Homo sapiens: one gene and its partner. The protein of the gene in region 1 purifies or fractionates together with the protein of each later gene. This does not show direct contact. Each region holds a gene or a part of one and is shown on either strand. Other genes may lie near its edges.

Evidence for each region.
Region 2: the proteins of CREB3L4 (region 1) and CREM purify together in Homo sapiens (affinity purification with western blotting, with the first as the bait; one study listed by BioGRID). This does not show direct contact.

Annotation. Positions count from the first base shown.
Region 1 is NC_000001.11:153,970,615-153,974,884, forward strand, and holds the end of CREB3L4 (cyclic AMP-responsive element-binding protein 3-like protein 4), read left to right. Parts: intron 1-2,129; coding exon 2,130-2,222; intron 2,223-2,357; coding exon 2,358-2,464; intron 2,465-2,580; coding exon 2,581-2,649; intron 2,650-2,765; coding exon 2,766-2,850; intron 2,851-3,005; coding exon 3,006-3,102; intron 3,103-3,257; coding exon 3,258-3,451; 3' UTR 3,452-3,745; downstream 3,746-4,270. Other genes in the region: protein JTB precursor, read right to left, coding at 4,065-4,221. UniProt on the Homo sapiens protein: Transcriptional activator that may play a role in the unfolded protein response. Binds to the UPR element (UPRE) but not to CRE element.
Region 2 is NC_000010.11:35,189,184-35,192,995, forward strand, and holds part of CREM (cAMP-responsive element modulator), read left to right. Parts: intron 1-3,812.

The DNA of each region.
Region 1 (4,270 bases):
TCACTGTTCCTCCCTTTCCTCTGAAAATTACTCCTTGTACCCAAAAGGCAGGGACCAGGTCCTAGCCTCTCTTCAAATCTGCAGTTGAAGCTGGGACCAGAAGCCAAGCTAAGCATCTTAGAATCTTTTTTTTTTTTTTTTTTTTTTTTTAGACAGAGTCTCGCTCTGTCACCAGACTGGAGTGCAGTGGCATCATCTCAGCTCACTGCAACCTCTGCCTTCCAGGTTCAAGCGATTCTCCTTCCTCAGCCTCCTGAGTAGCTGGGACAACAAGTGTGCGCCTCCAAGCCTGGCTAATTTTTGTATTTTTAGTAGAGATGGGGTTTCACCATGTTGGCCAGGATGGTCTTGATCTCTTGACCTTGTGATCCGCCCGCCTCAGCCTCCCAAAGTGCTGGGATTACAGGCATGAGCCACCGCACCCGGCCAACATCTTAGAATCTTGAGCTGAGGAACCTTTAAAAGTCTGATGCCGGCCGGGCGCGGTGCTCATGCCTGTAATCCCAGCACTTTGGGAGGCCAAGGTGGGCGGATCACGAGGTCAGGAGTTCGAGACCAGCCTGGCCAACATGGTGAAACCCCATCTCTACTAAAAATGCAAAAATTAGCTGGGCATGGTGGCGGGTGCCTTTAATCCCAGCTACTCGAGAGGCTGAGGCAGGAGAATCGCTTGAACCCGGGAAGCAGAGGTTGCAGTAAGTGGAGATTGCGCCATTGAACTCCAGCCTGGGCGACAGGGCAAGACTCCGTCTCAAAAAAAAAAAGTCTGATGCCCCTAAGTTTGGGTATACATTAGAAGCACCATGGTGTTTGTAAATGCTTTGTTATTTCTTTATTGTAGAGACAGTCTCACTATGTTGCCCAGGTTGGTCTCGAACTCCTAGCCTCAAGCAATCCTCCTGTCTTGACCTCCCAAAGTGCTGAAATTACAGGCGTGAGCCACCTTGGCCACTCTGTTTTCTTTTTCTTTTTCTTTTTTTTTTTTTTTTTTTGTTGTTTGTTTTAAATGAAACCCTCTAGGCCTCATTTTCAGTGATTTTGATTAGGTGGACTGGAAGAGACACTCCTCTAATAGTTCCACCAAACAGTCACAGGAACAAGAAAGGCACATCAGGAAAAGCCACACAGGAAATGGTTTTGCCAAAAGCCAAAAACCATGAGCAGGCAAAAACCAAAGTAAATTCTCTGTAAGTCACAAAATGAAGCATACATCTTTTTTTTCTTTGAGATGGAGTTTCGCTCTTGTTGCCCAGGCTGGAGTGCAGTGGTGCAATCTCGGCTCACTGCAACCTCCACCTCCCGGGTTCAAGCGATTCTCCTGCCTCAGCCTCCCAAGTAGCTGGGATTACAAGCACCCACCACCACGCCCTGCTAATTTTTGTATTTTCAATAGACATTGGGTTTTGCCATGTTGGCCAGGCTGGTCTTGAACTTCTGACCTCAGGTGATCTGCCCACCTTGGCCTCCTAAAGTGCTGGGATTACAGGTGTGAGCCACTGTGCCCGGCCACATACATCTTTCAAAAAGAAATACTAGTGAGAAGGGCCATCCACTCTCCGTACATCCTCTCCTGTGATTTGCTGTGAGACGTATGGCTGCCTTTGGGAAGCTCCTTGTATGAGAGGGGACAGAACCTGAGTCTGAGAAGCAGAGCTCAGACCCTAAGGGAGAATGGGCCACTGCCCCAGGGAGCTCCCTGAGGTTGACGGGCAACTGGATAACACACTCTGCTAAATGGAAGTTAATGACTGAAAGTGAATCATGTGCTTGCTGTAAGGAAATTATGCAAACTTCACTGTAGTGAGTTCTTTCAGGTTCTCTTGGGTATGGGGAGACATGGACCAGAATAAGCCTTCTCTAGCTTGCTCAGAGTGCCAAGGTCCTCAGTGTCTGGGTGAAGGATATGACAATACCCTCCTCTCTCCCTTCTTGGCCTCAGGATGTCCCTTTGGCTTGATCTAGAGCCTGTCTGAATTAAAGTCTCTGCCCCTCACCTCACCTCTAGATTAAAGTTGTCTCCCAGTGAGGAAACACTCTCCAGAAGGCATGTGGGGGGAGTAGCCTGGGTGCTGCAAATGGGATGACCCCCTCCTCACTCCTATTGCATCTTCTCCTGCCCCTACCCCCAGCTGCCCTGTCAAACCCTGTTCCTGACCGATGAGGAGAAGCGTCTGCTGGGGCAGGAAGGGGTTTCCCTGCCCTCTCACCTGCCCCTCACCAAGGTAACATGCTTCCCCTAAGGGTATCCCAACCCAGGGGCCTCACCATGACCTCTGAGGGGCCAATATCCCAGGAGAAGCATTGGGGAGTTGGGGGCAGGTGAAGGACCCAGGACTCACACATCCTGGGCCTCCAAGGCAGAGGAGAGGGTCCTCAAGAAGGTCAGGAGGAAAATCCGTAACAAGCAGTCAGCTCAGGACAGTCGGCGGCGGAAGAAGGAGTACATTGATGGGCTGGAGAGCAGGTACGCCTGGGTTATTTCTGGCTTCTTGTGGGCCATGTCTGGGCCCCTTCCTCACCATGGGAGGCAAGGTAAGGGACTCAGGTTGCTGAGCCTTGTCCTACCTCCCTACATTCTAGGGTGGCAGCCTGTTCTGCACAGAACCAAGAATTACAGAAAAAAGTCCAGGAGCTGGAGAGGCACAACATGTGAGTGAAAGCATTGTGTGTGTATGTGTGTTTTGAAGGCAGGTACAGCACACAGGGGTGCCATTCTTGGCCCCTGGTACCCAGATGATACTAACTCTTCATTCCTCCTTTCCCAGCTCCTTGGTAGCTCAGCTCCGCCAGCTGCAGACGCTAATTGCTCAAACTTCCAACAAAGCTGCCCAGACCAGCACTTGTGTTTTGGTACCATTAGTCTATCTACTCCCATCTCCCCCCACACTTCTATCCTTATACCCCGACTACCCGGCCAGATCTACTTCCCACATCCGATAACCCCAGCTGGCCTCCGTTCACTCTACCCCCTGCTCCCTTCATCTGTTCCTCTTGCTTCCTCCCAGATTCTTCTTTTTTCCCTGGCTCTCATCATCCTGCCCAGCTTCAGTCCATTCCAGAGTCGACCAGAAGCTGGGTCTGAGGATTACCAGCCTCACGGAGGTGAGAGGCAAGGGCAGGGAGCAACCCCTGGCTGAGCAAGGGAGGGGGACTCTGTTCTCCAAGGTCGTCAAGAAGCAAGAGGGAGGTCCTGTCCTGTCTAGGGTCTCCCACCCAGGGGAGCACTCTACTACTGCCCTCTTGCCTTCACCTCACAGTGACTTCCAGAAATATCCTGACCCACAAGGACGTAACAGAAAATCTGGAGACCCAAGTGGTAGAGTCCAGACTGAGGGAGCCACCTGGAGCCAAGGATGCAAATGGCTCAACAAGGACACTGCTTGAGAAGATGGGAGGGAAGCCAAGACCCAGTGGGCGCATCCGGTCCGTGCTGCATGCAGATGAGATGTGAGCTGGAACAGACCTTCCTGGCCCACTTCCTGATCACAAGGAATCCTGGGCTTCCTTATGGCTTTGCTTCCCACTGGGATTCCTACTTAGGTGTCTGCCCTCAGGGGTCCAAATCACTTCAGGACACCCCAAGAGATGTCCTTTAGTCTCTGCCTGAGGCCTAGTCTGCATTTGTTTGCATATATGAGAGGGTACCTCAAATACTTCTGTTATGTATCTGTGATTTTATTTCTTCTTTGGGTATAGGGTTGAGGGGAAATAAGTTTTGAGTGAGAAATAAACGTTTTAGCTGAAATTGTATCCCAGAAGTTTGAAATAAGTAGTAGAAGAGGGGGAAAACAAGGGAGAAGTGGTGGGGAAGACTTGGTAGATTGGGGCCTTAAGTAACCACCTCCTTTCCCTCTCTGCCCCCATGACTTCCTGCTCCAAGTTACAGAAGGGAAGGAAACCATTTTACTCTTTTTATTCTGCTCATTAATGATCTGAAAGAAGAAGATGGGGAAAAGGGGATTCCACCACAAGGCTCCAAAGAACCAAGAGTGCAAATCAGTCCATTTCACTTTCACTGTCTGAGATAGGGTCTCTAAGACCCAGGATACAAGGGTGGAATGTAGCTATATGGACTCGATTTGCTTCCGGACCTTTTCCAGAGCCTTTCTGTCCAATTGTCGCTGACGAATGATGACAAGACAAGCGAAGATCAGGGCCACACACACGACAGCCCCTTCGAACTTCCAAAATAAGCGTTGTTCCATCAAAGCTGAGCGGCAGCTGAGGGCAGGAAGGAATAGTTATTCCCAAGGAAGGCCAGACAGCTTCT
Region 2 (3,812 bases), on another chromosome or scaffold:
TTTGTTTGTTTGTTTTTTTGACTGACTGTTCTTAGTTGTTTGAATTCTGAAGTATCCATTCTAGCTCTTATGGAAGCTGTCAGTAATGAAATAAAAGTTGAGATGTAGCCCTAAGCTTTTAGGGTTACCTGAGATTTCAACTGGATTTGCGTTATACATTATTTTAATTCAGTTGTGCCTATGATAACTGTAATAGATGTATTTAATACAGCTTTCAAAACTCCTGTGTTTTAATTGAATTCTATTCCTCTTGGTCCATTCGCTTAGGATTTAGGATATAGCACTATTTTTTAAAAATTTGCTTGCTTGTTTGTTTGTTTGTTTATTTATTTATTTATTTATTTATTTTTGAGACAGAGTCTCGCTCTGTTGCCCAGGCTGGAGTGCAGTGGCGCGATCTCGGCTCACTGCGACCTCCGCCTCCCAGGTTCAAGCAATTCTTCTGCCTCAGCCTCCCGAGTAGCTGGGACTACAGGTGCATAACGCCATGCCCGGCTAATTTATTGTATTTTAGTAGAGACGGGGTTTCACCGTATTGCCCAGGCTGGTCGTGAACTCCTGAGCTCAGGCAGTCCACCCACCTTGGCCTCCCAAAGTGCTGGGATTACAGGCAGCACTAACGTTAAGGAAAGTAAAATCAGTTATTTTAGTTCGAATGTCTTGCAGGTATGATAAGCATATTATAATTGATGAGTCTCTTGATAATTATACTCAGGTATTTTGGGGGTTAATGTGGACTATGGTAAAAGTGTGTGAAGAACTGAGGTGGTGGCATTTATGGAGTAAAAAATGCATAGTACAAACCCAGTACTTTAATGTTTTCTTGAAATGTAAAATGAAAGCCACCTGTTCTATTCCCCCCATACTCATGGACCATATTTATGTCTAGGTGAATAATCTTAAAGAATAATTATTTCTTCTCATTTTATCTTTGTTACATGGAAGAATCTACTGCAAACAACAGAGTTTTGAGAATTTTTAATGTTTTACACAATATGCACGTAAGTTTGTGCCTTGGGGTTTTTAAGAATTTTCTTCCACAAGTCACAAAGATTTTTTTCCACATTTTCTTCTATTTGCTTTATGGTTTTACCTTTCACATTTATGTCTTTAATGTATCTGGGCTTCACTTCTGTATATAGTATTTGGTGGGAATTCATTTTTAACTTTTTTCTCCGTATATGGAGCCACTCCCAAGGGTTTGTTGTTTCCTCACTGGTGTATGGGGCAGCCTTAATTAGACAGTGGGTTTGCTTTTGCACCTGGATCTGGCCAGTCTTCTGTCTGATTCATCTTTTTCTGAATCCCAGCGCCATACATGTTTGTTATCTCATAAAACAAGTTCCCCTTGTCTTTTTTCTCAGTTTGATACAGAGTTAGTTTTTTGTGCACGATTATTCTTTCATATGCATTTGGAATAAGTTTGAGTTTCTAAATAGTAGTAGTAATAATAATAATAATAAAACCAATGATGAGACTGCATTAATTTTTTTTTTCTTGAGATGGAGTCTCGCTCTGTTGCCCTGCCTGGAGTGCAGTGGCACGATGGCTCACTGCAAGCTCCACCTCCCGGGTTCACGCCATTCTTCTGCCTCAGCCTCCCAAGTAGCTGGGACTACAGGCGCCTGCCACCATGTCCGACTAATTTTTTTGTATTTTTAGTAGATACAGGGTTTCACCATGTTCGCCAGGATGGTCTCGATCTCCTGACCTCATGATCCGCCCACCTCAGCCTCCCGAAGTGCTGGGATTACAGGCATGAGCCACCATGCCCAGCCAAGACTGCATTTAATTTAGGGAGAGCTGAAGTCTTCATAATGTTAAGTTGACCTATCCCAAACCATAGAAAGTCTTGTTTATTCAGATCTCATTTTACTTCTTTTAACAGTTGAACATTTTTCTTTTTATTTATTTATTTATTTATTATACTTTAAGTTTTAGGGAACAGTTGAACATTTTTCTTCACGGAGATCTTGCATATTCTTTCTTTAGTTGGTTCCTAAGTACTTTATGGGTTTTGTTGCCATTACAATGGTACCTTATTTTGTATTGTATTTTCTAATTGTTGCTGGTGTAGAGAAATACGGATTATTTTAAGTCGATCTTTTATCTATTAACTTTGCTGAACTCTAATTACTTCTAATAATTTACTGATTCTTTGTGATTCGGTCTGTGATCCTATGTGAATGTTTATACAAATAGTGATGTTTTGTTTCCTCCCTTCCAATCTTTATTCCTGTTTTCTTTTTCTCTTTTTTTCTTTTCCTTAAATAATCATGGCCAGGAGCTCCAGTTTAAACACAGCAAGGCCAGTGGGCATTCTTGTCTTCCTGAACTTAGTGGCAGTGTTCCCTGCCCTCCTTCTCCCTTCATCTCACTGAAGGGCCCTGTCAGCTTCTTTGTGGATTCTCAGTGCCTGTCTTGGCTGATGCCTCAGCAGTATTTAACACTGTCGACTTCTGCTTCCTCCACTTCCTGAGACTGTGTCCTCCTTGCTCTTCTCTCTCTGCTGCTTCTCTGTCAGTCCTGTTGCTGGGCTAAGCTTCCCCTGCCCCTGTCCTGAGTGTTTCAGTGATCCTCAGGCTCACTCCCCCACCCTCTTCCTGCTGAGCTCCCTCCCTGAAGGACTCCCTCCCACGCTGGCTTCAGTTCACTGTGACTATGTCCTGACTCCAGCTGGTTCCTTAGATGGCCACACATACCTCTGACTCCTAAAATCCACTCTTCCTATCTTCAGTGATTGACCACTACTATCCTTGATGCCAGAAACCTAGGTGTTGTCCAGTATTCTTCCCAGTCTCCATTCAAAGTCACTGTGTAGATTCTTCTGCCTGGCTGAGCCATGAATGCTTCTGCCACTCCACAGCCCTCTGTCCTGGCCCTGGCCCTGGCCTGGGTGCTATCCCTCTGACCCAGGCTACCCCTGTGGGCTACAGTCTCCGGCAGCCACCGGAAGCTGGCTATTGTGGAACAGCTTTCTGATCCTCCTAATCATGCCAGAGGCAGCAGCTCCCTTCTTGGCTCAGTTTTTTGGGAATTGTTCCTGAAAGTTCAGCTAAACTCTTCATTCCTCACAGTGATTCTGGGAGCCACTGATAGTTCTTAAAAACAGCAGTTTCTTGCCCCCAACATCTCCATTACTGCATTGCACTTGTTTTGTTTTGTTTCGTTTTGTTTTGTTTTGAGACAGAGTCTCACTCTCTTGGCCAGGCTGGAACACAGTGATGTGATCTTAGCTCACTGCAACCTCTGTCTCCTGGGCTCAAGCATTTCTCCTGCCTCAGCTTCCCGAGTAGCTGGGATTACAGGCATGTACCACCATGCCCAGCTAATTTTTGTATTTTTAGTAGAGACGGGGTTACACCATGTTGGCCAGGCTGGTCTTGAACTCCTGAGTTTAGGTAATCCGTCCATCTCGGCATCCTAAAGTGCTACGATTATAGGCATGAGCCACCACACCTGGTGTCTGGGGTCTTTTTAATAAGGGCACTAATCCTGTTCACAAGGGTGTCACCCTCATGACCTCATCACCTCTCAGAGGTTCCACCTCCAAATACTATTGCATTGGAGGTGAGGATTTCAACAGAGGAAATTGGGTGGGGATACAAACATTCAGTCTATAGCATCCACTCAAAAGCATCCATCAATGTCTGTGACCTGTTAGACAAAGCTCCAAATCTTTCATGTGGCCCAAATCTTTGCTTGATCCAAGCCTTGCATTCTTTAATAGCTGCCTACCTCTCCACTTCTCCCTCTTTTGTAATACAGCTCTTTCTTTCATTTCCTGGGATAGGCCATGCCCTCTCTCCCTC